Linked DNA regions of Homo sapiens. The protein of the gene in region 2 interacts with the protein of the main gene of each other region in a pairwise test. Each region holds a gene or a part of one and is shown on either strand. Other genes may lie near its edges.

What was found.
Region 1: the proteins of MAN2C1 (region 2) and PRRC2A interact in a two-hybrid assay, tested with the Homo sapiens proteins (one study listed by BioGRID and IntAct).

What each region holds. Positions count from the first base shown.
Region 1 is NC_000006.12:31,613,491-31,629,256, forward strand, and holds the start of PRRC2A (protein PRRC2A), read left to right. Parts: upstream 1-7,224; 5' UTR 7,225-7,368; intron 7,369-9,199; 5' UTR 9,200-9,299; coding exon 9,300-9,411; intron 9,412-9,588; exon of another isoform or gene 9,589-9,720; intron 9,721-10,241; coding exon 10,242-10,419; intron 10,420-10,770; coding exon 10,771-10,870; intron 10,871-10,959; coding exon 10,960-11,032; intron 11,033-11,680; coding exon 11,681-11,824; intron 11,825-11,969; coding exon 11,970-12,121; intron 12,122-12,301; coding exon 12,302-12,381; intron 12,382-12,529; coding exon 12,530-12,672; intron 12,673-13,281; coding exon 13,282-13,372; intron 13,373-13,491; coding exon 13,492-13,708; intron 13,709-14,274; coding exon 14,275-14,749; intron 14,750-15,653; coding exon 15,654-15,766. Other genes in the region: AIF1 (allograft inflammatory factor 1), read left to right, coding at 1,840-1,864, 2,031-2,092, 2,180-2,246, 2,614-3,020. UniProt on the Homo sapiens protein: May play a role in the regulation of pre-mRNA splicing.
Region 2 is NC_000015.10:75,354,709-75,370,351, forward strand, and holds MAN2C1 (alpha-mannosidase 2C1), read right to left. Parts: upstream 13,900-15,643; 5' UTR 13,876-13,899; coding exon 13,775-13,875; intron 13,491-13,774; coding exon 13,365-13,490; intron 12,927-13,364; coding exon 12,803-12,926; intron 11,885-12,802; coding exon 11,814-11,884; intron 9,958-11,813; coding exon 9,780-9,957; intron 9,481-9,779; coding exon 9,291-9,480; intron 8,041-9,290; coding exon 7,934-8,040; intron 7,746-7,933; coding exon 7,635-7,745; intron 7,240-7,634; coding exon 7,147-7,239; intron 7,013-7,146; coding exon 6,896-7,012; intron 6,674-6,895; coding exon 6,578-6,673; intron 6,484-6,577; coding exon 6,338-6,483; intron 5,981-6,337; coding exon 5,857-5,980; intron 5,504-5,856; coding exon 5,382-5,503; intron 5,281-5,381; coding exon 5,195-5,280; intron 5,068-5,194; coding exon 4,912-5,067; intron 4,731-4,911; coding exon of another isoform or gene 4,718-4,730; coding exon 4,620-4,717; intron 4,484-4,619; coding exon of another isoform or gene 4,446-4,483; coding exon 4,351-4,445; intron 4,101-4,350; and 18 more. Other genes in the region: NEIL1 (endonuclease 8-like 1), read left to right, coding at 1-110, 256-326. UniProt on the Homo sapiens protein: Cleaves alpha 1,2-, alpha 1,3-, and alpha 1,6-linked mannose residues on cytoplasmic free oligosaccharides generated by N-glycoprotein degradation pathways.

The DNA.
Region 1 (15,766 bases), on a different chromosome or scaffold from region 2:
CAACTCCTGACCTTGTGATCCGCCTGCCCCAGCCTCCCAAAGTGCTGTGATTACAGGCGTGAGCCACTGCGCCTGGCCACCTAGCACCTTTAATATACTTATTTATTTGTATTGTCTGCCTTCCCCAATTAGATCAACCATGAAGACAAGAGTTTTCATTTGTTGGGTTCTCTGGGCCTAGAGGCATGTCTGGCATATAGTAAGCATTCAGTAAATATCTGTTGAGTGAACGTATGAATAAAGAAGTGAGTTCCTCCCAGCAGGCACTGAGAACATTGGGAGTACAGGGTTGCAGCTCTCTCTGCAGCAGGAGAATGTAGCTGCAATAAAGGGAAGTCAAGAAGCCAGAGTCCAGCCAGGTGCAGTGGCTCATGCCTGTAATCCCAGCACTTTGGGAGGCTGAGGTGGGTGGATCACAAGGTCAAGAGATAGAGACCATCCTGGCCAACATGGCGAAACCCCATCTGTACTAAAAATACAAAAATTAGCTGGGCGTGGTGGTGGGCGCCTGTAGTCCCAGCTACTCAGGAGGCTGAGGTAGGAGAATTGCTTGAACCCAGGAGGCAGTGGTTGCAGTGAGCCGAGATTGCACCATTGCACTCCCGCCTGGGCGACAGAGCAAGACTCCGACTCAAAAAAAAAAAAAAAAGCAGCAGCAGCAGCCAGAGGCCACTCCAGCATCTCCCCTACCTGGCTTGGGTCAGGGAGAGGGCAGTGAGAAGTGAAAACTCCCAGCTACAGAAAAGGAAATATGTTGGGGGGAAGGGAGAAGGAAAGGTGTCTTCATCAATGCCGGGGCAGGGTAGATGGAGCCCTGGGCAGGGAGTTTGGACCAGGAAATCTCAATGAGGGAAATGTGCTGTCCTCACCTCTCCAAGAAGCGACTGGCCAAACAGAGTGACAGAGGGGATAAAGGTTATGCCTAGGGAGGCATGTGTCAGAGGCTATCATCCACTCTGTTGAACCCACAGTGACCAGCACCACCATCACACAAACATGCCTGCATGTGTGCACGCACGTGCAGTGTGCAAACCTGATGTCAGCCTCACTCCCTGGCTCTTCTGTCCACAAACGCTGTTTCTTTAAGTACCACTTTCAGTTCCTCCAAAGAATCTACTTAAACTCTTAAATTCCTGATCTCTATAGATTTTACTAAAGATTTCAAAGGAGATAAGATGAGAGGGTTACGTTGCACATTCTAAAGCAAACAAATTAAAATGTTTTGTTAGACATTTCCATATTTTTAAGGGCCTCCTTGGAGCTGCCAGGCTGGGAGTGAGGTTTCTCTCCCTTTCTAAACCCTGTGCCCATCTTGTCACCCTCCTGGAGCTGCCAGCAGACTTCAGATTCTTCTCCGATCTACAGAGCAGAAAAATTCAGCCAGCCCTTCCTTGTCTTCCTATCCACAGCTGCCTGCCCAGACTCATGAAACCTGACAAAATGCAAGGTCTTATCATTACCTGAACCTTGGACCTGTTCAAAAATACTAGTTCCTGAGAATAAATATCCCTGGTGTCTTCCTGCCCTTCCTGCACACCTCCAGTGGCTTATCAAAATATTTGTTTCATGCGCACACTGGGCTCTCATTTAAGAGGAATTTGGGAGAATGTTATTTTCTAATCTGCATTTCACACCAGGCTCCCCCTCCTTCCTGGGGTGCTAGTGTCAGCAGAACCTGATGGGGAAGTGAGGTCTGGGAGGCAGAGGAGGAAGGAATGAGGGGAAAGGGGAAGTTTGGGAGGAAGGCTTCTGAGAAGACTGGTGGGAGAGAAGGAGAGCCTGCAGACAGAGGCCTCCAGCTTGGTCTGTCTCCCCACCTCTACCAGCATCTGCTGAGCTATGAGCCAAACCAGGGATTTACAGGGTAGGGAGGGTGGGATAGGCAGCGGCATTAGATCGGAGGAATGAGATGGACAGACCTGGGCTGTGGGCTAGGAGGGCAGTCAGCTGGCCTAGGGTAGCCCGGGCTGGTGTCAGGGTAAGGAGAGGAAGGGAGGGATGAGGGCTGATTAATTTTTTTCACCCCACAGGAGGAAAAGCTTTCGGACTGCTGAAGGCCCAGCAGGAAGAGAGGCTGGATGAGATCAACAAGGTAGAAGGAAGAACTAAGGGGGCAGAGCCAGGGGGATGGGGCGTGGATGGGGAGGGCCTACCCTGGCTCTTATTTTCCCCTCCATAGCAATTCCTAGACGATCCCAAATATAGCAGTGATGAGGATCTGCCCTCCAAACTGGAAGGCTTCAAAGGTGAGGGGGAAACTGTAGGCGGTGGAGACAGGGCTGGGGGTAGGAGGGTTAGGATTTCCACAAGAACAAGGCAGGAACAGCAGAGATAAAAAGTTTACTTTTGTGGTAGCAAAAGGGGAACCTGCCTTTATTGCCCTCCTGCCACACTGCGGTCCCTTTCCCGGGCCTGCCTCTCTCAGCATCCCCTCTAGCTCCTTACACCCTAGCGGGGCCCCTCAACTCCCCAACCCCACTTCCTCTGCCTGCCCCTCCTCCTCCTTCCACGTTGTCTCCTCCACCTAGCAGTTGGTTGGCAACCCCTTCCTCAGTCCCCTGCTGAAAACCCTCCAGTCAGCGCTTATCCCTTCTGCTCTCTCCCCTCACCCAGAGAAATACATGGAGTTTGACCTTAATGGAAATGGCGATATTGGTGAGAAACGGGTGATTTGCGGGGGCAGGGTGGTGTGCAGGCCTAAGAAGACAGAGGTCTCTCCTACATGCTCCATTCCTCATGATTTGGGAGGGGGCCCACCTACCACAGTGGGAGGAAGGAGAATGGGGATGCGGAAGTGGGAGAGGAGAGAGAGGGTCTCCCCACCTTCTCCCCATCCCCATCCTCTGCCCCCAGATATCATGTCCCTGAAACGAATGCTGGAGAAACTTGGAGTCCCCAAGACTCACCTAGAGCTAAAGAAATTAATTGGAGAGGTGTCCAGTGGCTCCGGGGAGACGTTCAGCTACCCTGACTTTCTCAGGATGATGCTGGGCAAGAGATCTGCCATCCTAAAAATGTGAGTGTCAATTTCCAACCTCCCCTGTACTTACCTGTTTTCTCCTCCCCCATCCCTACCCTTGTCCACAGGCTCAACATTTCTACACGTTGCCCATCATCCCTTCTTCCATCCTTAGAGGGACCCTTCCAAGGTCCCGACCCCATCCCTATCCATAGTCCTGGTCCCCAGAAACTCCAACCCCTGCCCTTCCTCTTCCCCCTTCCACCCTCACATCCCCATCCCCTTCTAGCCTTTCCTAGCACCCTATGATTTATTCCCTTGAGAGGAGTGTTCCCTGATCCCTGTGCCTCTTCCCATCTCAACCAGGATCCTGATGTATGAGGAAAAAGCGAGAGAAAAGGAAAAGCCAACAGGCCCCCCAGCCAAGAAAGCTATCTCTGAGTTGCCCTGATTTGAAGGGAAAAGGGATGATGGGATTGAAGGGGCTTCTAATGACCCAGATATGGAAACAGAAGACAAAATTGTAAGCCAGAGTCAACAAATTAAATAAATTACCCCCTCCTCCAGATCAAGTCAGCTTAGTTTTTATTTGGGTGATTTTTTTCCTGGGTTTGGGAAGGAGAGACAGGTCTTGAGGGAAAGGTGGCAAGGATTTGGCCATATGAACAATCCATCAACAACGCTATAGTGTGTCCACTACAGCAGATGGTTTCACGCACCAAGGGGGATTCCAGCTGTGTAAGACAGCCTTAACCTCAAAGAATGCAGGCAGGTCAAAAACACATGTCCAAACAAGGTACTCAGGCCCATGACAGATTTCATGAAGAGCAAGGAATACCATGAACCAACATTCTCCACCACTATAAGCTTTGTCACTTTGACAAATCACTCAGCCTCTGTGAGGCTTTTTTCTAAAAATGGGGATAAAGTGACCTATGCTATTGTGCCTGACATATCATAAGCCCTCAATAATGTTTAAAACTTGAATGAGCCGGGGCCGATGGCTTATGCCTGTAATCCCAGCACTTTGGGAGGATGGGGTGGGCAGATCACCTGAGGTCAGGAGTTCGAGACCAGCCTGACGAACATGAAGAAACCCCGTCTCTACTAAAAATACAAAATTAGCCTGGTGTGGTGGCGCATGCCTGTAATCCCAGCTACTTGGGAAGCTGAGGCAGGAGAATCTCTTGAACCCAGGAGGTGGAGGTTGTGGTGATCCGAGATCGCATCATTGCACTCCAGCCTGGGCAACTAAAAAGCGAACTCCGTCTCAAAAAAAAAAAACCGAACATACAAACAAACAAAAAACACTTGAATGGGTAGATGAATGAAAGAACTGGTGCTATTAAATAAAGCAAAGAATTTACAGCTGGGCGTGGTGGCTCACGCCTGTAATCCCAGCACTTCAGGAGGCCGAAGCGGGCAGATTACCTGAAATCAGGAGTTGGAGACCAGCCTGGCCAACATGGTGAAACCCCATCTCTACTAAAATACAAAAAATTAGCTGGGCATGGTGGCAGGTGCCTGTAATCCCAGCTACTCGGGAGACTGAGGCAGGAGAATCGCTTGAACCCGGGAGGTGGAGGTTGCGGTGAGCCGAGATCACGCCATGGCACTCCAGCCTGGGTGACAAGAGTGAGACTCTGTCTCAAAAAAAAAAAAAAAAAAAAAAAAAGACTGGAAGGAGAAACTCATTGGAGACAATGACTATGGACATCCCTTTTAAGAATTTTGCTGCAAAGGGTAACAAAACGGTATGTGTGGTAGCCGGCCGGGGAGAAGGGAGAAGAGAATCATTTTGGAAGTTTGAAAACAGAAGTCATCTTAAATCTTACTGAGCCTCTGACTAAAATTCTCATCTGATTTCCGCAAACTTTTCTGCCTTCACTTTTCATAATGAATAAGCCGCCTCCTTTATTTAGCCATATCAGCCTAGGCACAGGCCCCCAAACTCATGCCTCCACTAATCTGTTCTCTGCACCTGAGATGTACACCTTCTTCTGAAACTTGGGTAAGTTCTAACTCGTTCTTCATATCTATTTATTTATATATTTTTGACAGATATCTACTCCGATCATTCTTCATATCATTTTTTTTTTTTTTTCCTGAGATGGAGTCTCATGTTGGCCAGGCTGGTCTCCAACTCCTGACCTCAGGTGACCCACCCACCTTGGCCTCTCAAAGTGCTGGGATTACAGGCGTGAGCCACTGCTCCCGCTCCCGGCCCTTTTTTTCTTCTTTTTCTTTTTTTTTTTTTTTTGAGACGTAGTCTCACTCTGTCGCTAGGCTGGAGTGCAGTGGCGTGATCTCAGCTCACTGCAACCTCCGTCTCCCAGGTTCAAGCGATTCTCCTGCCTCAGCCTCCCAAGTAGCTGAGACTACAGGCACGCGCCACCAGTCCAGCTAATTTTTGTATTTTTAGTAGAGACGGGGTTTTGCCATGTTGGCCAGGATGGTCTCCATTTCTTGACCTTGTGATCTGCCCGCCTCAGCCTCCCAAAGTGCCAGGACTACAGGCATAAGCCACCACGCCCGGCCTCATATCTCTTAATAAGAGTTTTTCTAGAAACATTTCTCAATCACCCCAGGCATAATCATATTTTATTTCTCTACTTCTTTCTTTTTTTTTTTTTTTTGAGATAGAGTTTCGCTCTTGTTGCCCAGGCTGGAGTGCAATGGCACGATCTTGGCTCACCACAACCTCCGCCTCCCAGGTTCAAGCGATTCTCCCGACTCAGCCTCCCGAGTAGCTGGGATCATAGGCATGCGCCACCACGCCTGGGTAATTGTATTTTTAGTAGAGACGGGGTTTCTCCATGTTGGTCAGGCTGGTCTCGAACTCGTGACCTCAGGTGATCCGCCCGCCTGAGCCTCCCAAAGTGCTGGGATTACAGGCGTGAGCCACCGCGCCCATCCTTCTTTTTTTTTTTTTTTTTTTTTTTTTTTTGAGACGTAGTCTTGCTCTGTCACCCAGGCTGGAGTGCAACCTCCGCCTCCCTGGTTCAAGGAATTCTCTGCCTCAGCTTCCCGAGTAGTTGGGATTACAGGCGCCCGCCACCACGTAGGGCAAATTTTTGTATTTTTAGTAGAAATGGGGTTTCATCATGTTGGCCAGGCTGGTCTTGAACTCCTGATCTCGTGATCCACCTGCCTAGGCCTCCCAAAGTGCTGGGATTACAGGCGTGAGCCACCGCGCCAGGCCTTATTTCTCTACTTCTATAATATCCTGTGCATTATCTCCAGCGCCTTCAAATCATAGTCATTGAATGATCTGTTGAATGGGTATAACTCTGATGGGAGCAGAGAGTTCTAGAATCGGGTAGTAAGAGACAAAGGAGGGTAACAGTACTGCATTTCACAAAATGAAACCCATTGTTAAGAAATTACAAATTCCCAATAATTTCAAATATAAAAATTTATTCATGAAAATTATAGGTTATAAAATTAAATGTCCGTCTTAGTCGATGGTTGCCCATATTTTGATGAACGAGTCATTCCTAGCCTATCTTTGTTCAAATGATTTGCATACATTATGCAAATAGGTAGAACTGCCCGAAGAATGCCTACGCTGCGTGGTGCGGACGAAACGCTTCCCGGGGCCTTTGGATTGGTCTGTCTAGCCACCTCATTTGCATGACGTAATATAATAACTGGAAGGCCCCGCCCCTCTGGTGCATTTCCCCGCTCCAACCACCTCCTCAAACTCACGGCAAAGGGATGCGAGAGCTGGAACTCTTACCAGGCCTGCGGAAACTCAGCCCTCCGGCAGCTAATCCCGCCCGCCAGCCCCCGTCCTCTCTCTCTTTCTCCCTAGCTGAAGGCGCCACGGGCCGTGTGTCGTTGCCTTCCACTTTTGGCGTCCCAACGTCTCTCCGCTCCCATCTTTCTACTAACGTCCGACGCACGCTCCGCCTCTTTCTCCCACATTCGTCGTGTAAATTCTGCGTCCCAACCGCCCAGCCGACCTGCACCGCATTCCCGCCCCCTCAACACGGCTCAACGGCCGACGCTGGGGGCCCGCCTCCTTAGCCAATCGGGGTCCTAGTGCCCTTAAGTCCCTCCTCTTTATGCAAATAACCTCCGCATGCTCCGCGCGCCCGGCCCTTTTTTTTTTTTTTTTAAACTAAAGACAGCCCTGGAAGTAGAGGGTTAGGGTAGAAAGTGCCCCGCCCTTTATGCAAATTAAGGGGCGTGTCTAGGCGCGGAGGGAGGTGGGAGGTGGGAGGGGGTGCTCCCGGGGGCGGCGGTTGCCCGGATGGGCCGTTAGTCGGGGCTCAGCCGCGGAGTGAGCGAGGGAGACGGGAGGAGCCGAACCCGGCGCCATCCGCCGCCATCCTCCCCCGCCCCACCGCCATCCCGTCCCGGGGAGCCCCTAGGCCCGGGTCCCGGATCCCCGCGCACCCGGCCAGGTGAGTCTGGGTGAACCGTGCGCTGACGCCCTTTTCCGGCGCGGGAGAGGTGGTGGCGGTGGCGGTGGCGGCGGCGGCGGCGGTGGTGGGCCGGGGGGAGGAGAAGCTGCCATTAGCCGCCGCCATTTTGTCCTCCTGCTGCCGGGCCTGCTTGCCCCTCCCCCTCCGGTACCTCTACTCCGGGACCCGCACCTCCGGCAGTTCATTCAGGATCCGTAGTCTGCCCCTAACCACCCACCGTCTTGGCTTCAGGGGGTGACCCCTGCGCCTGGGTCCGTAACTCCCTACCCTCCGCTGCGCTCCTGGCTTTTCACCCCCATTTGTGGGCCCCCTCCCCGGCTGCCGCCCCGTGGTGGTGGGCCGCGCCCGACGGTTCTCTCGGAAGGGCGCTTTTCCTCCATATTGGACCCCCTCCTATCATCCAGCGCTGTGTTCCCCCCTCTGGACGCCCCTCTTCGTGTCGAGCCACTCCCACTCTAGAATCCTGCTTTTATCCCAGCATCTTTGCTTTCTATGTTGCTCAGTCGCCCTATGTCTGCTTTTTCATTTTTCCTGTTCCTCGTCTCCTTTCTCCCCCAACCCCGTTTTTCTTCTTGGGCCTCTGCCCCCTTACTTCGTTGTCTACATCCTTTTTTTTTTTGCCATTCCTGTTTCCATATATTTTCCACCTGCTTTCGTATTCATTATTTTCTGTTAGTTTTGGTCTATTCGCTACATGACTCTTGTATTCGTTTTCCCTTCATATATTTATCTTCACAGATTGGCCTCCTCAAACACCTACGAAGCAACATCCATCTTATCTCTAGCTTGTCATAAAGTTCTTTCTCCCCAATTTTAGCTTTCATTCTGGGCCTGTCTGGATTTCCCTGCTTTCTTCCCCACTATTTCTCATCTCTTTACACTGTTCCCGTCCATAAACGAATGCCTGGTCACTCTGGAATGGACTGAGAGACCTGTCGTCCGGCTTGCTTAGGGAGCTGGAGGTATCGAGTAAAGAAACACTGGTGATGGACATTTTTAATGAGGATAGGAAAACGAAGATGGCTCTGGCCTTGGCCCTCTGTTTTCTGGCCCATGGTTACAGGGTGCTAAGGTGGCTCCATAATGCTTTTTCTCAGTTCTTCATATGGTAAAACAGTATTTCATCTGGAGGCGATTTTTTCCAGGAGCCAATACAGGAGCAAGTTTAGGAAAAGATGGGATATTTCAAATACTTGAGGTTCCTATAGCCTGGGAGTATGTACAGCCCTAGTTGTTCTATGAGGATTTCTCTGGTACCAACCCCCATTCCGGCTGAGCAAGCTCATAAAATCCTTAAACTCCCAGCATACCTTCCTGCAAACCTTCCCAGATGGACACGAGGCTGCTGGGCTGGGAGCCTGGGGTACAGGGCCCTGGGGGCATGATTAGGGAGCTTGTGTCCAATAAACAGGGAATCTAAAGTGTTGTTTCTTCTTCTCTGATGGAATTGTATGCTTCTTTTTTAGTTTTCTCTTGCTTGAATTTGTCCTGTTGTAAGTCTCTGAAACGATTTTGGTGGAGAGAGAAGAGATTATTACTTGTAGGGAATTACTCTTTGTAGACAGGCACAAAGGGCAGAGTGTTTATACTAGGAGGATGCTGGATTTTTACTTAGATTTCCTTGACAAAGGTGTCTGGGGGAAAGGAGGGAACATGGCATTTGAGCTATGAGGGAGCTAAGTAGATCATGGTTGCTTGAGAAGAGTGGGCAGTTTACATAGACTGGAGGAAAAGACACCAGAGGGCCTCATATCTGAGTCCCTAATGATAATGCAATGGAGTTTTTAAGTTTCTGTTATGGTCTGTACAGGGGACAGAGACTGAGACACTTGCTGTCTGGCCCACAGGCTCTGGCACGTTTTGGGGGAGGTGCCTGCAGGACCCAACATACTCAATGAGCTTCCAGCGCAATGTCCGATCGCTCGGGGCCGACTGCCAAGGGAAAGGATGGAAAGAAGTATTCCTCGCTCAACCTGTTTGATACGTATAAGGGCAAGTCCTTAGAGATCCAGAAACCCGCTGGTGAGAGTCCTGCAAAGATGCTTCTGATGGTTGAAAGCTAGGCATGCATGGGGCATACGTTTTAGAGCTCTTTAAAGGGAAGTGGCTGTAGTAGAAATACCAAAAGACTAGAGGAGATTTCCCAACTTTACACTGGGTCCTTTAAAGGGGGTGTGGGCTCTGGGTGAACACCAGTTATCCTCCTACAAAGGCGTGTCTGTGGTTCCCTGTCTTTGGACACGTAAGAATTGGAGGAAAATAAATGTGGATTTGGGAAACTTTGAGGCCAGCTTGCTTCTTGCAGGCTCATGATCAACCAATCTCACATAAAAGTATTGAATGTTACATATCTCAGCCTTCTTGATAGGGATTTCATAGATTTTTTTTTTTTTTTTTTTTTTTTTGAGACCAAGTTTAGCTCCTGTTGCCCAGGCTGGAGTGCAATGGTGTGATCTTGACTTACCACAACCTCCACCTCCTGGGTTTAAGCGATTATCCTGCCTCAGCCTCCTGAGTAGCTGGGATTACAGGCATGCGCCACCACACCCGGCTAATTTTGTGTTTTTAGTAGAGACAGGGTTTCTCCATTTTGGTCAAGCTGGTCTTGAACTCCTGACCTCAGGTGATCCGCCTGCCTCGGCCTGCCAAAGTGCTGGGATTGCAAAGTGTGAGCCACCACAATCAGCGCGATTTCAGAGATTATTAAGGGCAGGGGAAGGAATCCCTTCTAAGAGAAGTTTGGAGGAAGTAGGTAATAAAATATTCAACATGTATAAATGTGTCCCAGGATAGGAGGCCATCAGATCTCCCACATGAGGCATTTTCGACCCTCTCTCCGTCTTGTTCTCCAGTTGCCCCTCGCCATGGCCTGCAGAGTCTCGGGAAAGTTGCCATTGCCCGGCGTATGCCACCTCCAGCCAACCTTCCAAGCCTGAAAGCCGAGAACAAAGGCAATGACCCCAATGTCTCACTAGTGCCAAAAGACGGAACAGGATGGGCAAGCAAACAGGAGCAGTCCGACCCCAAGAGGTAGACAGAGGCTTGGGGGACCTAGAGTGATGGGTATTTTAACTTGAACTTCAGGGAGCATTGGGGCTTGGTTTAGTCCAGCCACGTCTGAGCCAGAGACGAAGAGGTCCCTTTCTTACCTATTGCAGGTTCCTTGTTAAATGACTAAGGAATGGTACTAAACTTTAGCTTTTTGTCTTGGAGAGAGAGCATGAAAAAATAGACAACAGCCTACAAAGGATGACAAAATTAATTTGTCCTTATATTTGTAAATGGTAGCAATGGGCATGATTTCAGTCCTGAGTCTCCACCAGTTGGAGAAGTCAGGGAGGCATCTCAGGTGTGAATAACCTTCCCATTCTGTCCCCTCAGTTCCGATGCCTCAACCGCTCAGCCGCCGGAATCGCAGCCACTGCCGGCTTCACAGACGCCTGCCTCCAACCAGCCGAAACGACCCCCAGCAGCCCCCGAGGTACCTGGAGAACTGGAGGGGTGGGGAGGAAGAATGGTTCATAGCTGCCCCACCCACATCATTTATCATCTTTCTGAACACTTCCCCAGAACACTCCTTTGGTTCCAAGCGGGGTAAAGTCCTGGGCACAAGCCAGCGTCACCCATGGAGCACATGGAGATGGTGAGTGCAGCACTTAATTGGGGAGCTGTGTCTGGGCACCATGGGATGCATGAACCCTGCACTGTATTTTCAGCCAAGTGACCTTGGTCCTCTTTGGCTAAATCAAGGACCACCCATATTCAGTTTCATGGAGGCACATGAGCAAGTTTAAGTCTCAGTCTTATATGATGGAGTGTAGTGGTGCCAGAACTGACCTCCTTGGGGAATAAGCAGTTATTCTGTAGGGGGGTGAGTTTGAAGGCGGGAAACCTGATGGTCTGGTACCTGTCAGAGCCTTCCACTTTTTTTTTTTTTGAGACGGAGTCTCATTCTGTCACCCAGGCTGGAGTGCAGTGGCGCAATCTCGGCTCACTGCAACCTCTGCCTCCTGGGTTCAAGCGATTTTCCTGCCTCAGCCTCCAGAGTAGCGGGACTACAGGCACACGCCAACACACCCAGCTAATTTTTTGTGTGTTTTTAGTAGAGATGGGGTTTCACATGTTGGCCAGGATGGTCTCGATCTCTTGACCTCGTGATCCGCCCGCCTCAGCCTCCCAGAGTGCTGGGATTACAGGCGTGAGCCACCGCGCCCAGCCAGAGTCTTCCACTTTTATAGCATGTCCTCAGGAAATGTCTTCTGTCTCCTGTTCTGCATCCCCATCCTAATAGGTGGAAGGGCATCAAGCCTACTGTCACGATTCTCTCGAGAGGAATTTCCGACCCTGCAGGCGGCTGGCGACCAGGACAAGGCTGCCAAGGAAAGGGAGTCTGCCGAACAGTCGTCTGGGCCCGGACCAAGCCTCCGCCCCCAAAGTGAGTGGCTGCCTTTTGGCCAAGACATTACCTATTGCATCTCAGAGCTAGGTGCTGGCTTATTCACCTTCCTCCCCATCACTTTCAGCTGTGTTCACTTGTCCTCCAATCATTGATACCTCTCTCTACCTTTTCCAAAATACAGATTCTACAACTTGGAGGGACGGAGGTGGGCGTGGCCCTGATGAGCTGGAGGGCCCGGACTCCAAACTTCATCATGGTCATGATCCCCGGGGTGGGCTACAGCCTTCAGGCCCACCCCAGTTCCCTCCCTACCGCGGAATGATGCCGCCTTTCGTGAGTCTTGGTGTCTTGTCTTGGAACGATTACACTGGAAGCTGGAGAGCTAGGAATCAGGACTTAGTCTTTGACCTATGAGATAGAAGGGAGGGTGGGAGGATGATTGATAGCAGGCTTAAGGAGCTAGAAGGGTATATGACTGTCCCTCTGAGCAGCTACTGTTGGACCCTTTTACAGATGTATCCCCCATATCTCCCGTTCCCTCCGCCCTATGGACCCCAGGGGCCTTACCGATACCCCACTCCTGATGGGCCCAGGTGAGCAATCCAGGTCTGGGTTTGTGGCTGGGGGCAGGGGAAGCTTATTGGGGGAGGAGATGGTTTTCTAGCCAGGAGGCTCAGTCTAGGATCAGTCTCGCATGTGGTTATACAACATGCCATATTTCATTTTCTTTTTTGTGTACAGCCGTTTTCCCCGTGTGGCGGGCCCCCGAGGCTCAGGGCCACCAATGCGCTTAGTAGAGCCTGTGGGTCGTCCCTCTATTCTCAAAGAGGATAATCTCAAAGAGTTTGATCAGTTGGATCAGGAGAATGATGATGGTTGGGCAGGTAAGTGGATATTAAGGGTCAAGAATTTGGATCTTGAAAGGCAAAACCTAATGAGGAAAAAAAAATACAGGGTTATGTGGGTGAAAGGCAGACATTGAAGTGTAGGAAGACCAGGCCCAATGGCTCACATCTGTAATCCCAGTGCTTTGGGAGTGTTAGGTGAGAGGATCGCTTGAAGCCAGGAGTTCAAGACCAGCCTGGGCAACACAGCAAGACCCCCCACCTCTACAAAAAAAAAAAAATTTTTTAGTTGGGTGTGGACTGTGCATCTGTGGTCCCAGCTACTCTGGAGGTTGTGGTGGGAGGATCAGTTGAGCCCAGGAGTTGGAGGTCACAGTGAGCTATGATCGTGCCACTGAACTCCATCCTGGGCAACAGAGCGAGACTTTTAAAAGGAAAAAAAAAAAAGAGTAGGGGAGGATGGATGGGGAATACCAAGTCCTTGCAAAGTGGTGAGAGGAGTAAGAATGACAAGACTTCATTGGTGGATCTAGACTTCGGAGGGAAGGATATTGGCATTGGTAGTCCATCTTGTTACATAGTTCCAGACTACCTCCCAAGATTGGAGGGCAGAATGCTTGGGTTACTAATACTCATATTTCCCCTCAGGGGCCCATGAAGAGGTTGACTACACTGAAAAGCTCAAGTTCAGCGATGAGGAAGATGGGCGAGACTCTGATGAGGAGGGTGCTGAGGGCCAGTGAGTTAGGGCCATCAGGGGAGAAGAGGAGGGGGTCTTGGTTTGTATTTTGGTAATATACTCTTAGAGGAGTATATTAGTTGCAGCTGATTTTAATTTCACTGTTGATCTGCTCACAGCAGGGATTCCCAATCAGCTTCTGGTGAGGAACGGCCCCCTGAAGCAGATGGCAAAAAGGGCAACTCCCCCAACAGCGAACCGCCCACTCCTAAGACGGCCTGGGCAGAAACCTCTCGGCCTCCAGAGACAGAGCCGGGACCTCCTGCCCCAAAGCCTCCCCTACCCCCACCTCACCGGGGCCCCGCCGGGAACTGGGGCCCCCCTGGGGACTACCCAGTGAGTGTCTCCAATAAGGGATTGAGAGGGTCAGCTGTGGGAAATTGGTGTCAGCTGAGTAATTGAAGCGGTTGTGATATAGAGGAAGGGGGGTGCTAAAAATGGGCTGTGTGAAGTGCCAGGCTGCAGAACATCCTGGGAAGCTTTTAAATATCTTTGGTAATAGGGGAGTCTGGGTAAGAAGTGAGAAACTGGGATGCTAATGAGGAAAGAAGAAAAAGGAGCCCTGGGTGTTTGGGTTTCGGAAGGAGAGAGGGAACAGAAAAATAAAAAGACTAGGGTGGCTAGATAGCTGGATCTGTTAGTATGCATCAGTAGTCCAAGCTACTCAGCAGGCTGAAGCAGAAGGATCACTTGAGCCCAAGTTCAAGACCAGCCTGGGCAACATAGCAAGACGTGGTCTCAAAGAAGACCAGGATAATGAGTTTGTCACCACCCAGAGAGATCAACCCCAAAGCCTGGGTCGTTGCATCCTGCAAGTAGCGACAGTTGATTTGTTGTAAAAGAGATGATAGAAAGCATAGTAACTGATTCCCCTGGCCCTGCTGGGTCTTGCCAATTGACAGGATCGTGGGGGTCCTCCCTGCAAGCCCCCAGCACCTGAAGATGAGGATGAGGCATGGCGGCAGCGACGAAAGCAGTCGTCATCTGAGATTTCCCTGGCAGTGGAGCGGGCCCGGCGACGGCGAGAAGAAGAGGAGCGGCGCATGCAAGAAGAGCGCCGGGCAGCCTGTGCTGAGAAGCTCAAGCGACTCGATGAAAAGTTTGGGGCACCTGACAAGCGGCTCAAAGCAGAGCCTGCTGCCCCACCTGCTGCCCCTTCTACCCCAGCTCCACCACCTGCAGTCCCTAAAGAACTCCCTGCACCTCCAGCTCCACCTCCAGCATCAGCCCCAACACCAGAGACAGAACCTGAAGAGCCAGCACAGGCCCCTCCTGCCCAATCTACTCCTACTCCAGGTGTGGCTGCGGCTCCCACTCTGGTGAGTGGTGGTGGCAGTACCAGTAGCACCAGCAGTGGCAGCTTCGAAGCCAGCCCAGGTATGGAGATGGGGATAGGTACTACCAGATGTCAGATCACTGCTTCAAGGTGCTTAAAGGTGCAGGGTGGTAAGGCTGGGGATAAATGAAGTAGAAGGCAGTTGTTTTGGTTTATTGGACTATCAGTGATAGTGTTCTATCATTTGTATATCTGAAGGAGGGAAGGTTTTGTCTGGAATCTTAGGTTGTAGTCTAATACCATTTCTTGGCAGAGTACTGTAGCTCACGCCTATAATCCCAACACTTAGGGAGGCTTGGGGTGGAGGATCGCTTGAGCCTAGGGAGTTTGAGACCAGCCTGGGCAACAAAGCAAGACCCTGTCGGCCAGGCATGGTGGCTCACACTTGTAATCCCAGCACTCTGGGAGGCCGAGGCGGGCAGAACATGAGGTCAGGAGTTCAAGATCAGCCTGGCCAACATAGTGAAACCCGTCTCTACTAAAAATACAAAAATTAGCCAAGTGTGGTGGCATGTGCTTGTAGTCCCAGCTGCTTGGGAGGCTGAGGTAGTAGAATCGCTTTAACCCGGGAGGCAGAGATTTCTGTGAGCCAAGACCATGCCATTGCACTCCAGCCTGGGTGACAGAGCAAGACTCTGTCTCAAAAAAAAATCCTGTCTCACAAGAAATACATAAATAAAAATGAAAACTATTTCCTATAGGCCAAGACTGAAGAAAGTACTGTTGTTCTAATGGTTTCATAGAAAGTTAATGCCACCACCATAGGCTCATGAGAGGCCATGAAGTGCTTTAATGGGTCTTAAATGGGAGGGGCTTCAATAGAATAGATGTTGAATAGAATATTTTAGTCTTAAGGGAGCTAGAGATGAGACGTGAGATTCCTGGGGTGTTCATGGAGTGTCTATTGTTGGACTAGATCACTCTGTTGTGTTTTTTCCGATGCAGTGGAACCACAACTGCCCTCAAAAGAGGGTCCTGAACCACCAGAAGAGGTTCCTCCTCCTACCACACCCCCAGTTCCAAAGGTGGAACCCAAGGGTGATGGGATTGGTCCCACC
Region 2 (15,643 bases):
TCCTAAGAGGACTGCAACCCAGCGGCCTGAGGGGACCAGCCTCCAGCAGGACCCAGAAGCTCCCACAGTGCCCAAGAAGGGGAGGAGGAAGGGGCGACAGGCAGCCTCTGGTGGGCTTTCCTCATCACTCCCAGAAACTGGCTCTACAGGAGAGGATGGGATGGTGGCCTAGGAGCGCGTGTACAAAGGTGGGAGAAAGGCTGCCATGGCAGCCCCTGGAGTCTTAGCTGACCATCTTGCCTGTTCTTCCCCCAGGCCACTGCAGACCCCGGAAGGTCAAGGCTGACATCCCATCCTTGGAACCAGAGGGGACCTCAGCCTCTTAGCAGGAGGCTCTCCTTGCTTGCACTCACCCTTTCTTATTGTCTTGCCCTGCATCTGGGGGTCTGAATTTTTGGGAGCAGGCAATATCTGAAGGTGCAAACAGGCCCTACGGCTGTTCCCTGCACAACTCTCATGGTTTTAATTGTACCCCATCTTCCACATCTTTAAAGCTCATGTGAAAAATGCTGCATTTTTAATAAACTGATACATTTGAACTTCTTGGCACCTCTTGGTCTGAGATGGCCAGGTAGGAAGGGCCTGCTGTCCGGTCCTGGTGACAGAAGGCCCAGCTCCTCACAAGGCAAACTGAGCCCCCATCCCAGTCCTCAAGGCTCTGACTCTATCAGAGGACAGTTTGCCTCTGCAAGGACAGCCCCTCAGAGGTGGTACAAAGACCCTGGCCCCAGGCAGCCCAGGAGCCAGAGCTCCTCCAGTCCAGATTCTCCAGGGTCCAGGGCTGCCCCCTCATCCTGGCAGGAGCCAGGCAAAACCCACCCTTCGGCCCCTCCCCAGCCCCAGGCCCAGGCCCTTTACCTGCTGGCACAGGGGAGGGGCTTCTCAACTCATGGTCTCTTCACTGGCTTTTGGTGGCTCGAGGTCCCCAGTCTCTCCTGTGGGGGCTGCAACCCAGACCCTGCACGCACAGGTACCTTAGGATCTTGCCCCTACCCACCAAATACCTGGGAAGCCATCCCACCCCAGACTTCCCACCCCCACCCCAAGCGTGAGGATGGGCCCTAAGGGGACTGAGCAGCAGGGTTCCCGATCCAAGGATTTATTCCACAAGAAAAGACTGATCCCTGCTTTAGGCTGGGGAAGCAGAAATTAGGAGTCCCCAGAGCCTTCTACAAACAAAACCCCAGCCCCAGGGACTCAGTGTGGCGGAGGCTGAAGCACGAGCAACAGGGACAGCACTTGGAAGGGAGAAAAGGTGAGCTTCAGGCGGTTGTCCCGAAGGGTCAAGTGGCCAGCAGGGTCTGGTCGCTCCAAGAGATCGCAGCTGGAGAACAGGAGGGGCCATGAAGGCTCTGCGAGGGCGAGACTCGACCCCCGCCCCAATCCCACACCGCCACTCACAGGATGGCCTCCTGAACCGGCAGCGACAAGTGCAGCCAGCAGTCCACGTGGCTGCCGTGGGCCTCATACAGCCTCAGGACCAGCGAGCGGCGCTGGGGGCTGCTCTCCGCCTGCAGAGGAACACGTCTGGTGGGAGGGGCCGAGGGCAGGCCCAGTTCGGAACCCCGTCCCCAGCACGTCCCACCCCTTGCCTGCTTGACGGTCTCCAATACGACCGCGGGTGAAGACACGGAAAACGCACTCCAGGAGGTGGCGGGCGCTGGGCTGGGGGCTGGCAGAGCCAACAGGGGGAAGTTTAGGCTGTAGGCAGCTTGGATAACGCCAGCATCCTGGAAAGAGCCTGGGGTACGACCAGGAAACAATGCTGGTGGAGAATGGGGGCTACCCTCCCCTGTCCCTAGAAGGGGCAGGAAGCCAGGTTGCTGGGGTTTGGGCTCAGGGAAGGGCAGAGAGGTGTCTAGGGCTGCAGGAAGGCCCCACCGTCCCCAGCACTCACCCTTGTGCGGCATCAGTGCATAGGTGAACTCGTGGCGCCCCGTGTCAGCAGTAGCGTCCGGGGCTTTAGGCGCCCGCAAGCTGGGGTGAGGAGGGCGCGTAGGGGCCACGCTGAAGCTGTTGGAGTTGTGGTCGGGAAGACCCATTTCTCCATGCCAGCTCCCAGGCCTGGTGGGTACCCCACTTACAGCGAGAGGCTGAGGATGCTGCCTCGCACTGACGCGCCATACTTGCAGTCGTTGAGCAGGGCCAGCCCAAAGCCGTGTTCTGACAGATCCATCCAGCGATGGGCCCACACCTGGAGGGCAGATCCAAGACCCACTTGGTGGCCCTGTGCCCCTCTTTGTGCTCCCAGACTCCAGAGCTCCTGTCACTAGGCCGAGCACAAGCTCTAGAACCACACAACTGAACTCCAGCTCCCACTGTACGGGGCCCTGGGCATGCCACCCAACCTGCCTAAGCCTCAGTTTCCTTATCTGTGAAACGGGAATAAATAATAGTACTCACCCCATCGAATGATCATGAGTATCAAATTAAATGTAAAACTTTGTTTTTTTCACACAGGATCTCAGTCTGTCACCCAGGCTGGAGTGCAGTGGCTTGATCTCGGCTCACTGCAACCTCCGCCCTCCAGGATTCAAGTGATTCTCCTGCCTCAGCCTCCCAAGTAGCTGGGATAACAGGACATGTGCCACCACGCCCGGCTTTTTTTTTTTTTTTGAGATGGAGTCTCACTCTGTTGCCAGGCTGGAGTGCAGTGGCACAATCTCAGCTCACTGCAACCTCCGCCTAAAGGGTTCAAGCGATTCTCCTGCCTCAGCCTCCCGAGTAGCTGGGATAACAGGACATGTGCCACCACGCCTGGCTAATTTTTCTGTATTTTTAGTAGAGATGGGGGTTCACCATGTTGTCTATGATGGTCTCGATCTCTTGACCTCGTGATCCGCCCACCTCGGCCTTCCAAAGTGCTGGGATTATAGGCCTGAGAACACTGCGCCTGGCCAATTTTTGTATTTTTTTTTTTTTTTTTTTTGAGACAGAGTCTCGCTCTGTCGCCCAGGCTGGAGTGCAGTGGCACGATCTTGGCTCACTGCAAGCTCTGCCTCCCAGATTCACGCCATTCTCCTGCCTCAGCCTCCCAAGTAGCTGGGACTACAGGCGCCCACCACCACACCCGGCTAAATTTTTGTATTTTTAGTAGAGACAGGGTTTCATCGTGTTAGCCAGGATGGTCTCGATCTCTTGACCTCGTGATCCACCCACCTCAGCCTCCCAAACTGCTGGGATTACAGGCGTGAGTCACCACGCCCGGCCCAATTTTTGTATTTTTAGTAGAGATGGCGTTTCACCATGTTGGCCAGGCTGGTCTTGAACTCCTGACCTCAGGTGATCCACCCACCTCGGCCTCCCAAAGTGCTGGAATTACAGGCGTGAGCCACTGTGCCTTGCCAATGTAAAGCATTTAGTGCAATGCCTGGCACACACGTTAGGAAGCAGCAAATGTTGATTATCCTCTTCCTCCCCAGCCTGTTCCACACAAGCAGTCTCCCCAGCCAGGGAGGAGTCCAAGGCCACTCCCACCCTGCCATGTCAGACCTCAAATCGAGCCCAGTCCCAAGAGGTATTGTAGTGGGTAGGTCGCTGCAGGTGCCCAAACTGGATCTCATAGGTGGCCTGGGAACTCCGCACGCGAGCAGGGAACTCCACCTTCAGGAACTTGTGGGCCTCATGCCAGTGTACCTGGGAGTGGGAAGGAGGGTGGGAGTCAGGGAAGGAAGAGACACACCAAGGCCTGGGGCTGGCCCCTCCTTACCAAGCACACTTGGGGAAAACAGCCACCCCCTACCCCCCGACTACCTCGGTGTGGAAGCGGACATAGGGGCAGCCAACGTCCAGCACAACCTCCTGGCTAAGCCGACTGTTGGGGCTGATCTGTAGCAAGAACCAGGCGCTGCCCCGCAGGCCGCCCTCGGTGCCCACTGCCAGGGTCCCTGCCTGGCCCAGCACAGGCTTCCTATGGGACAGGGGTGGACATACTGATCCAGAGCAGCCTGTGTTCCCACCACCTCCACCATCCCCACATGCTGCCCAGCCTATACCGTGTCTCCAGGTGGTAGTCCATGACGTCCCATGCATCCCAGTACAAGGGGACATCATCAAATAGCACAAACTGGTTCCCCACGGCGCCCTCAGCAATGGCCTCCCTGGAAGGACATGGGATTGGTGCTGTACAACCAACTGACCTCGCTGTCTCCAGCTGCTCTTGGTGGGGTAGGGTGGAGTGAGTAGACCCAGTGGACAGGGGACTACTGCCCAGCCTGCCCTGCTCCATGTGTGGGTTCCAGCCCAGAGCCACTGGTGGGCTGCTGTGGGCAGTGTTGTGGCAAGGGGAGAGAGGAAATGGCCTGGGGTCTACTTGCCAGGCACTGGGAAAGGGCAATGAGGATTTGGCACCTGCCAGAGGCCACCAGGACCAAGGACGTCAGGCGACCAGTTGGGTCCAGCTTCACTCGGATGATGCCATTGTCCAGAGTCACGGAGCCATCAGTCTTTGTGGGAGGAGGCCTTGAGGCTGAGTCTGTAGGGGCTTCCCACACCAAAAGTCTTCCCACCCCAACCCCAGCCCCGCCTCACCACTTGCTCCAGACAGGGGAGCTCAGGACCCTCAGTTGTAAGAAAGTATCCCAGCACAGTTCCTGCCCCCCAGGGCATGCAGGACTCACCTCTTGCACTACGAACACAGGCTGCTGGGGCAGCAGGGGCTGCAGTGAGGTGGGGGGAGGAACAGGAGCATAGCCCATGCTGGGCACTGTCACCAGGGCTGGGGGTGAGGCCTGGGCATCAGTGCAGCCTTCCTGACCTTTCAGGAAGCTTGCGCAGGTGGGGATGGGTTGGTGGAAGATGTGCTACTACTCTCCAGTCAGGGGCACCCAGATCCCTCGGGGTATCCCAGGCCTGATCTGTCTGGCCTCCATCCTTCCTGCTGCAGTAGCAACCCTTCCCCTCAGCTCGTACCTAGGCTGTGGGCCCCGCCCGGTTTGGGCAGGGCCATCACTTCGATCCGCTTCCAGGGCAGTGTGTTGACGATGAGGAGGCCCTCAGGACCTGGCTCCCCAGCACACAGGGCTGCGGCTGCAGCGCTGAGCAGTGTATTGCCATGGGAACGGATGTCTGAGGAAAGACTGGCTGGTCATAGGTGGGCAACAGGTCTGGAATGTGCCCATGGGTATCCCACAGGGGACACTCTGGGCTCAGCCCTGGGGTTGGAGAGAGCAGGCAGGACTATTGTGAGCCTAACCTTCATAATGGCACATGGCTTCCTCTGCCACCATCTGGATGCAGCTTCCAGTCACCACATCATGGAACTGGTTCAGAAGAAGGAGCCTGCAGGGGCCAAGGGCAGGGATGGGAAGGCTGGGAGGGGCAGGCACAGAGGTAACTGCAGTGAGCAGTCAGGTGGATGGCAGGGACAGAACTGGGCTGACCTCCAGAGGTGCTGCAGCTGGGCTGCTGGGTATAGGAACTGGGCACTGCGGGCCAGGGCCAGGCTACTGAGCAGCTCCACGTCGTGCAGGATCCGCTCACATTCCCGGTTCCCCTTCTTGATCTGAGCCCAGGATGGGAAGATTAGTCTGGAGCCTGCTTAGCTGTCCCAGGACACCTTCCAAAGCCCTCCCTTGCTCAGAATCCCTGAGGACTCACCAAGGGCCTCGTGGAGAAGGCCTCTGGCGGGTGACCTGCCTTAAATGCCTTCCCTCTTCTCCCCGCAGCCCAAACCCTTCTTTCTTCAGGGGTTTCTGCCTCCTTCAAGCTTTCTTGACCAACCCAGGTCTTGAACTTCTCTCCTCCAAACTTCTCTTCCCCTAGATCTGGCCTGGGCTCTGTCCCCTGCTGCCTTCTCTGACCCTCTGCAGATCAAGGGCACACCCTCCCTGCACAGCCCTGCAACCTCCCCCTGACCTGGGCATGGGTGGTGTATGTGCCATTGTGCAGCTCCAAGAAGAGCTCCCCAACCCACGTGCACAGCTGCTCTGAGTCACTCTCCAGTGCTGAGAAGAGCTGTCTTGGAGAAGATAGCTGCACCCTGAGGAGACCACAAGCCTAGGTCTCCCAGCCTTGGAGACCACATGGCTCACCCTTCTTCCACACCAAAGCAAAGGATCCAGCTCCTACAGAGAGGAGCCACTCCAGAAAGCTCCCCGTTCACAGATGGCCAGCCCTGGACGCCCTAGGAGAGCCTCTCTCTCTGATGGGCTGGAGCCCTTACCAGCTTCAGCTTCTCCCCCACCCACCCCCAGGGTGGAAGTTTGGAGGAACCCGTGGTCTAGGATTGGGACAGGACAAGGTCCAGAGGAGGGGTTGGGCCCAATGTCTGAGGGAAGGCAGGGCTCATGGCAAGGGCCCAGGGTGGGGCTAAAGGAGAGCCAAGGCCTGGCCTGACCTGGGCAGCCCATCCGTATTGCTCAGGCGCTTCAGGCGGTCCAGCATGGTCTGGGTGGGGCCACCACCCCCATCCCCAAAGCCAAAGAGGAAGGCACTGTGGTTGGCCCGCCCCTTGTCCCGGTTGTTGGCCACGGTCTTCAGCACCTAGACAGGTGAGGGCAGGCCAGCATGGATCAGCCTGGAACAAGCCAGCCCTCTCCAGCCTGCCCCTACCCCACCACCCTAGGTGACCCCTCACCTCCTCCACGCTGCCCTGCATCCCATAGGAGTCGCCAGGTGGGAAGTGGACCAGTACACGGGAGCCATCCAGGCCCTCCCAGAAAAATGTATGGTGCTACCAGCAGGGAAACAGAAGCAGGGCAGAGAGGCCAGAGTCAGGGCTGAGGCAGAGCCAGGCCTTCCAGACTTGGTCCTGCCCCTGCCTGCTATGTGACCCTGGCAGAGGCAGAGTGAGGGTTTGGTGGTCTGTCTAGGACCCCACAATAAGGGGGAGAGGCAAATGGGCCAGGCGGGACTGAGGCCCACTCTGACCCTGACCCCCCGGGGGCCTGCTTACTGGGAAGGAGTTCACCAAATTCCAGCTCAATTTCTGGGTGAGAAAGCGCCTGATGCCACAGCCGTGCATGATCTGGGGGAGCTGTGCTGAGTAGCCAAAGGTGTCCGGCAGCCAGAACTGTGGAGAAAGAGGATCCTGGAGTGCAGGAACCAGAGCTCCAGGCGGACTCACCCCAGCCTCAGCCCCTCAGCACTCCAAGTCGAGCGCCAGCCCCACTCGCCCACAGCCTGGTGTAGCAGCTCTCAGCCTACCTCAGAGCACATCTTCCCAAACTCCTGCAGAAAGAAGTTCTGGCCCTGCAAAAACTGCCTCACCATGGCCTCTCCACTGGGCAGGTTCCCATCCTGGCAGTGAAGGAAGTGGGAGGCAGCCCAGGTCAGCGCTGGACGGGGAGCAGGCAGGCGCTCAGGCCAACCCAATCCCTGCAGGAGAAGCCAGGGCTGCTCAAACATGGGAGTTACAGCCAGAACTCAGGAAGGGCCCCTGTCCTTCAGGCCTGACTGTCCATCTGCCTGAGGGGGTGCCCAGGACTAGGCCATGCAACTTGTCACAGCGCTGGAGGCTCTCCTCCCCCTTGAAGTCCCAGGCCTTGAGATCCCAGGGACTAATGAGCCAGCCCTGCCACACAGCGGGGATGAGTGGCCCGTGGAAACTCACCAGCAAAGCCGGGAGGGCGGGGCTACCTGAGGGAAGGCTGTTGTCATACAGTTCAAGGCTGAGGAGTGCCCAGTGCACTTACCATCTCCACCCAGGTGCCCCCCACAGGCACAAACTGCCCACGGCACGCAAACTCCTGGATGCGGGAGTACAGGCCAGGGTAGCGGCTCTTCACCCATTCCAGCTGCTGCGCCTGTGGGCAGGTTGAAGGGAGCTGGGACCAGAGTGACAAGGGCCCCACCCAGGACTGAGCATATGGGACTCAGTGTGTGGCTGAGGGTGAGGAGCAGCCCTGACCCCAGGCCTGGGAAGCCTTCAGGGCCTGTGGAGCTCCAGGGAGGGCCACGTGCTTCCCTCCTCCCTCACAGCTGTCCCTCTGACCTGGGAGCAGGCAAAGATGAACTCAGGGTTCCGCTCCATGAGCTGCAGGGCGGTCACCCAGCTCCGGGCACATTTCCTCACAGTCTCTTTGAAGGGCCAAAGCCAGGCTATACGGGGAGTGAGGTGGAGGACAGAGGGAGCAGCAAGGCTGACCAGGCCTGGGCTGGGACTCCAGAGGGTCACCTAGCCCCCCTCCCATCCCAGGCCCTTCACCCTGGAAAGCCCTGTGGTGTCCCTCCTAAGTGGTCACTTCACTTCACTCCAGCGAGGTGGGAGGAGGGGCTGGGGAAAGGAGGCGGCAGTGCTATGAGGCCAATTATACAGGTCAGGAAATGGAGGCTCCAGGCCCCAGAATAGCCTCAGTCCTCTTGGGGAATTAGACATCCCCTAGAGGATCCTACGAGAAGTAGCAGGGACTACCCTGCCCCTGCACAAACTTGATGTATACCTGGGAACAGAGGCATGGCTCCCAGGATGGAGCCAGCTGTCCTACCAGAGGTGCTACAGCCTCTCCTGACTCCCAGGCTGCAGTTCCTCCCTTACCAGCCCAGAACCTCTCACACCTTACCCTACATCTTGGCACAGCAGAGAAAGCCCTTGTTCTGTGATCCCAAAACTTCGGCTGCATCAGAATCAATACCTTCAGGAGCTTGTTAAAAATGTGGATTTCCCGTAAAACTCAGACACTGCAAACTTGTCCAGGAAGCCTCTCTGGAATCCCCCAACCCAGCTGGAGTAAGTACCTCTCCTGTGCTCTCCAGTGCCTCAGACTCCCCACCATTGTGACACCAACTCTGCCTGCTGAATCTGTCTCTGTAATCCTACCCTCAATATCTAGCATGGGCCCCATGAGGCATCAGATTTTGTTGAAAGAATAAATGAGGCTGGGCACGGTGGGTCATGCCTGTAATCCCAGCACTTTGGGAGGCCAAGGCAGGCGGATCACCTGAGGTCAGGAGTTTGAGACCAGCCTGGCCAACGTGGTGAAACCCCGTCTCTACTAAAAATACAAAAATTAACCAGGCATTGTGGTGGGTGCCTGTAATCCCAGCTACTAAGGAGGCTGAGGCAAGAGAATCGCCTGAACCCGGGAGGCAGAGGTTGCAGTGAGCCGAGATCACACCATTGCACTCCACCCTGGGTGACAAGAGTGAGACTCCGTCTCAAAAAAAAAAAAAGTGAATCCAAAGCAAGCAGAGCCCACAGTCCAGCCCCCCGGCCCCGTTTTACAGACGGGGAAAACGCAGGTCCAAGAGGAGCAAGAACTTGCTGAGCATCACACAGTGCTTCTAGGGCACATCCAGGTCTTCAAGGGCACTCCTGCTTCCCCAGCCAGCCCAACCAGCTGCTGTCCTACCTGTATCAATGTGGCAGTGCCCTGTGGCATGAATGGTGTGTTGGCTTTCACCCCCATGTTGGCCAAAGAACCTGGAGGCCAGGGCCTGGGCCACTGGGAAGGTCTCGGGCTGGGCAGGGTCACACACGTTCACCATCTGATTGGCTGTGTACAGGGCCTGGAAGCTGCGCTGGTTGTCCTTCCCGAGGCCCTGCAGCAGGGTTCTGCCCCTTAATCCCTTTTTCAAGCACAGCTTCCAGACCTAGGCTCCACTGATCTCAGGGCTCTCAGCAGAGCTCCCCTGACCCCCAACCCTTTTTCCCTGCTGGTCCCCCTGCTCAGCACCGTCTCCCTCCTCCCCTTCACATAGGAAAATTCTCTCAACCCTCAAGCAGGTGGAAACCCTCGTCCTACTCTGGATTCCCAGAGTCCCATTTATCTGACCCAAAGAACAACCTTCTTGGAGCAGGGCTCTAGAGGGTAGCAGGGGGTACAGGGGGTGTCAAGTACCTTGGCTATGCCCAGCAGCAGCTCCAGATCCACCAGGAGCATGTGGACATCCCGGTGGAACACAGCTAGCTCAGCCCGGCTCAGCTGGAACATCTTCTCAGGGTCAGGGGCTGCAATCATGCTTCCCTTCCCGGCCCCCAGGAGCCCATTGCAGGCTACTTCCACATAGAGAGTGAGGCTACAAAGATGGGGAGACAGCCTCAGGCTAAGGGACTGGCACAGTACTCCGGGGACTTGGGGAAGGGGCACCCAGGAGGCATCCAGCTGAGCCCAACCTGTCTGCTTCCAGGATCCACTACCCAGAGGATCCCACAGTGTGACAAGAGTGCATGTGGGAGGGTTGTGGTACAAACACCAGATGGATCCCATGTCTTGCTGTCAGAGAGAATAAGTAGCAAAGTTTGGAACCATGTAAAGTACGCTGCTGTTTAGTCTTATATTTCCAAAGTTGTCTTTGCAAAGCACTGCCTTGGTCTTGGAACCCTCTTTGCATATTAAAATCATGTTCGGATCTCCCAGGCTCAAACTTTTAGACCCAAGATCTAAAACCAACACGGCCAACATGGGCGGGCCATTCATTGGAGAACAGGCTGGGCTGTGGTGATGCCATACTTAGGCTTCAGAGAGCAAACACGACTTCCTTAGGGAGGCCTTCCTGACTCCACTTCGCTGCTAAGTCTAGAGCAAATTCCTCAGTGGAGTACCCAGGATTTCCTTCCAGAGCCCTCAGTTTTGTAATTATATGAGTGAATCTGTCTCCCTTTGTTGGCAAGGGCTATTTTATTCACCACCATACTCCCAGTGTCTGAAAGCATCTGAAACAGTGTCAATCTATATAAAATACATTCATAATGTCTAAGAAGTGTTTTTAATGGTGTCATAAAATGTCCATGTTATAACATGGAATGTAAGAAGTCAGGATACAATCTTAACTAGTAAAAACTATACCGGGATGAGCCGGGCACGGTGGCTCATTCCTGTAATCCCAGCACTTTGGGAGACTCAGGCAAGTGGATAGCCTGAGGTCAGCAGTTTGAGACCAGCCTGGCCAACAGAGTCAAACCCCGTCTCTACTAAAAATACAAAAAATTAGCTGGGCATGGTGGTGGGCACCTGTAATCTCAGCTAGTAGGGAGGCTGAGGCAGGAGAATTGCTTGAACCTGGGAGGCGGCGGTCGCAGTGAGCCGAGATCGTGCCATTGCACTCCAGCCTGGGTAACAAAAGCGAAACTCCGTCTCAAAAAAATCCAAAAAAACCCCCCCGAAAAAACAAAAAAAACTATGCCGGAAAGATACACCAAGAACATGAATACTGGGCCAGGTGCGGTGGCTCACGCCTGTAATTCCAGCATTTTGGGAAGCTGAGAGGGGCGGATAACCTGAGGTCAAGAATTTGAGAGTAGCCTGGCCAACACGGTGAAACCCTTTCTCTACCAAAAATAAAAAAAAAATAGCTGGACGTGGTGGCACACACCTGTAATCCCTGCTACTCGGGAAGCTGAGGCATGAGAATCGCTTGAACCTGGGAGGCAGAAGGTACAGTGAGCTGCGATCGTGCTACTGTACTCCAGCATCGGCGACAGAGGGAGACTTCGTCTCAAAAAAAAGAACATGAATGCTGAGATGTTAATAATGTTCATCTCTATTCTAGGGAGTGGAATAACGGTAGTTATTTACTTCTTTGTGCTTTCCTGTATTTACCACAGGCAAACATTGCTATTATTTTTGAGACAAGGTCTCACTCTGTTGCCCAGGCTGCAGTGCAGCGGTGTGATCATGGCTCACTGCAGCCTCATCCTCCTGGGCTCAGGTGATCCTCCCACTCAGCCTCCCAGGGTAGTGTGGGTCACTGCACCCAGCCCATTATTTTTATGGTTAGGAAAAAATCATGCTTTTAAAAGCAAACAATGAGATGTGAGGATGATTGTGCTAGAGCAGAGGCGGGCTTATGAGATCACTCTGGGCCTCAGCTCCTCCTTGCTCACTGGTACTCCCTCCCTGACAGCACTGGTCAACCAGGGCACAGGGACTCACCTTCGGGGGTCTCTTTCCCCCAGCCTGTCAGTCAGGACATAGCTGGTCTTCTCACCCTCTTTGGTTAAACCCTAGTAGGGAGGGGAGTGAGAGAGACAAGGCTTGAGGCTTTTGGACAGTTCAGGTAAAGTGTAAGCCATGGGGAGTCAGGCCCCTCCATCTGGTTCCCAGCTCTGGGTCCTCTCTCCCAAGCAGGGCCAAGATTGGCAAATCAGGGACCCTTGGCAGTAGATGCCCCAACTCCCATGGCAGCCAGCACCATGACCGTCAAATAGCCCCTGTTTACCAGTGGCAAACCCATGGTCTTATGGGAAGGGCCCTGGGAAGGGGTTAGGCAGCCTGAGTGTGGATTCTGGTGGCCTCTGCACCCCTAAATAAATACCGGGAAAGAAACTCCGTGAAGTCAGGGGCAGGTTTGCCTCATTCCCTGCTACACCCTAGTGCTTAAGGGTATGGCCCAGAATGGACACCAGGAGATATTTGCTGAGCCAGTGAAGGGAGGAAGGGATGGTCTCTGCCTTCTTGTAGCCAGGAAGAACAGTCTTAACCCCAGATTGAGAGTCAGTCCAATTTGAAATAGAAGCTGTGTGAACCTGAGTGAGTCAACTACACATCTGTTTCTTAATTTGTAAATGGGTATAAAGACCTACTAGATAGGAGTATAAGGACTAAACCTGATAAGGGTGGAGCATGAATAAGACACTTAACAGTGGTTATAGCTGGGGAATGGGATGGGTGATAAGGAGAGATCCATTACTTTATCTAGAACTGTTTGAAATGTTTTCCTATAAGTTTGTATTATACACAATAAAAACTAAGGACCAATTGCACAGATGCCCAAGTGGCAACTTCCCTAGTCCTGAAATCCTGATACCACCCTGTGGGCAGAGCAACTCAGCTGTGGCTTCTCCAGAGTCCACAGAAGAAGGGCTGTAGTCATTTCAGGGCTGAAATGTGGCCATACCTGGCCCTAGGACAGGGTTCCTCACCTGGACAGGTTCTCCATCACGCCACACCAGACCTTCTCCATCACTTTCCCAGCAAAGGTGAACTTCCTGGCCCACCCATGCCTCTGGGATGGTCAGCTCCACCCGGAACCAGCAGGTCCACCATCTGCAAGAGAGCTGTTGTGATAGGCCTAGAGGTAGAAGTCCTATCCTGATATCCTTCCTTGGATAAAGTGTCGGCAGGGGCTTGAAACTCTCCAAGCATCTGCAGTGTCACAAGGTACTCAGCTTTGAGTCACAAGAAAGGAGCAACAAGGTGAGAAGCAAGATGAGGGAAACAGGCAGAGGCGTCAAAGGTTCGTGATCCCTAGGGTGCCCTTCCTAAGGGATGTCCAGAGGCGGCCACGTGGGAATGAAAACCATCCCCTGAAGACCCAGGGACCAGAGAGCTGTTCCCAGCAGAGGGTGCTGCTCCCAGCAGAGGGTGCTGCTCGATCCCACGTAGTTGTCTACGGCAGAGGGCAGACAACGAAGGTGTGGCTGGGAGCTGGGTTGGGACTTCCCCTAGGCCTGTGGCCCCGCCCACCCGCTGGGCGTTACCTACGTGGGTCCGAAGCTGTCGCCGACCTGCGCGGGGCGGAAGTCCCGCTGGACTGCCTCCTGGTAGGGAAGTCTCTCCGGCGTCAGGAAGCTGGAGAGCACAGCCACAGGGCAGCTGGCCCCAAAAAGCCTGCGTGGGACGGGCCGGTGGGCACATGCTGGAGGCCGCCCCGTTTCCGCCTGGGGGCCAGCTGGCCGGTGGGGCCGCACTTTCCCTGGATCCTCCGCCAAGAGGGCTGCCTGGCCGCTCCGCGGCACAGTCCATTCCCTACCCCCTCCTCCCCGGCCCCTGCCCTGCCCGCGGCGGGCACTTTGTCCCGCGGCCCGGGTGGCTGCAGCTTAGGTTTCTCCCCGGAAGGAAAGCTTGAGGCGCACGGTTGCGGTCGGCCGGCTGCGGGGGACCAGGGGCCACACCTGCCGCGGAGGTTACAGTCGGTAAAGTAGAGCGGCGACACGAACTTCTCCACCCGCTCCAGCGTGGTGCGCCAGTGCTTCAAGGCCGGCGCAGCCGCCATCGCCGGGCTCTCGCTCCTCTTTCCGGAAGGCCCCTGGCGCTACCGTTCCGCTCCACGGCAGGAAACCAAAGGTTCCGGCGTCCAGAGGGCGCCTCCCAGTCCCGGGCAGCTTTTCTTGGAACACCGGCGGCTCTCGGAAGCCCAGCTGCTGTCTGAACTTTGAGCCGAGTTGGAAGCTAGAAACTGTTTTTGAGGCTCTCCTATGTTGTCCGAAATAGTGGGCCGCAGGGAAAATCTCAAAATAAAATGGGAAATTTGACGATTAGAACTCTCGAAAGTCTCAAGACAGAGACTTAGGCCATTCGGCAAGACAGGCGGGAGCCTCAGCTGCTGCAGACCCAGCCTCAGAAGCAGCAACCGGGAGACCTCTGGCTCTAGCTGTCGGTGAACACGGAAAGTGGTGTTTGCTTAACGTGGAGCCAGACTACCCGGAATAGGTGTTTTCATACCGGACGGAGATCAGGGTGTTAGTGAGCAGGGTGGTAGAGCTTTACGCCCAAGTTACTACGACTTACTCGATTACACGCTTTACTGAATGTATATTGCTAACTCTTGCACATCACCAGAAACTCTGGAGTTTGAGGTGGCAGAACAGTCATGGCATTGACGATCCCAATGGAAAAATGTATTTCACCATACAGGACTGTAGAGTCCCGGGAAGCCATAATACCAGAAACAGACCTCCAGTTTCATTCTCATCCCTAGTACTCCACTGACAGCTTTATTTTTTTTCTCCTGGGGTTGCCAAGAGTCTTTGTCTATAAAATCATTAGGAACAAAAAAAAATACACAAGATTAGCCCTGATATTTTAATGGAAATACTGACCAAGTTTACAACATTTCAAATGCAGATCACACGGAAAGGTGACTAAGTACAGAATAACAAATGTGATTTAAAACAAAGATAACCTGCTGCTGCATATAATACAGGTTGGGTTTAGAGCTTGGAGCTCAGATGTCAGACAGCAGGAGGAATAAAAATGCTACTTGTGAAAACCCAGGCTGTAGGTAAAACTTACTCTTTTGTTGGTTGCACTGGTGGGTTGGGACTTTCTCCTGAACTGGCCTTGAAATCCTATCCTGACCTGCAGGCAAGTGCTCTGGACAAAACACTGCAGGGGCAGCAACAGCTGGGGCTGACCCTGATCACACCCCACCAATTTCCCCTATGGTTCCAGGTCAACATGACCTTTCTTGAGGGAACACGGGGATAGGTGAATTATTTGAGAAAACCTCAAGATCTTTCCCCTAAATCAGTACACATGACCACCGCCAAGTCAGACACTGCCCCAGCTTTGCCCTAAAATCTCATCCCACAAAGCTCTTTTTGGCACCCTACACTTTGGCTCACAGTCTCTTCTCCCCAGTACAAAAAAAGCCTAAAATCAGGCCAGGGTGGCTCACACCTGTAATCTCAGCACTTTGCGAGGCCGAGGTGGGAGGACAGCTTGAGGCCAGGAGTTTGAGACCAACCTGGGCAGCATAGCAAGACCCTGTCTCTACAAAAAGTTAAAAAATTAGCTGGGCGTGGTGGCATGCAGCTACTCAGGAGGCCGAGGTGGGAGGACTGCTTGAGCCTGGGAGGTCAAGCCTGCAGTGAGCTATGATCGTGGCACTGCACTCCAGTGTGGGTCATAAAGCGAGACACTGTCTTTAAACAATAAAAGCCTAAAATCAGAGAGGTCTACCATGTGTTTTGAAAATCCAGGAGCCAAAAAATTTTGTTTTTCTTTTTGGTGGTGGTGGTGATTTTTAACTAAAAAGCAAA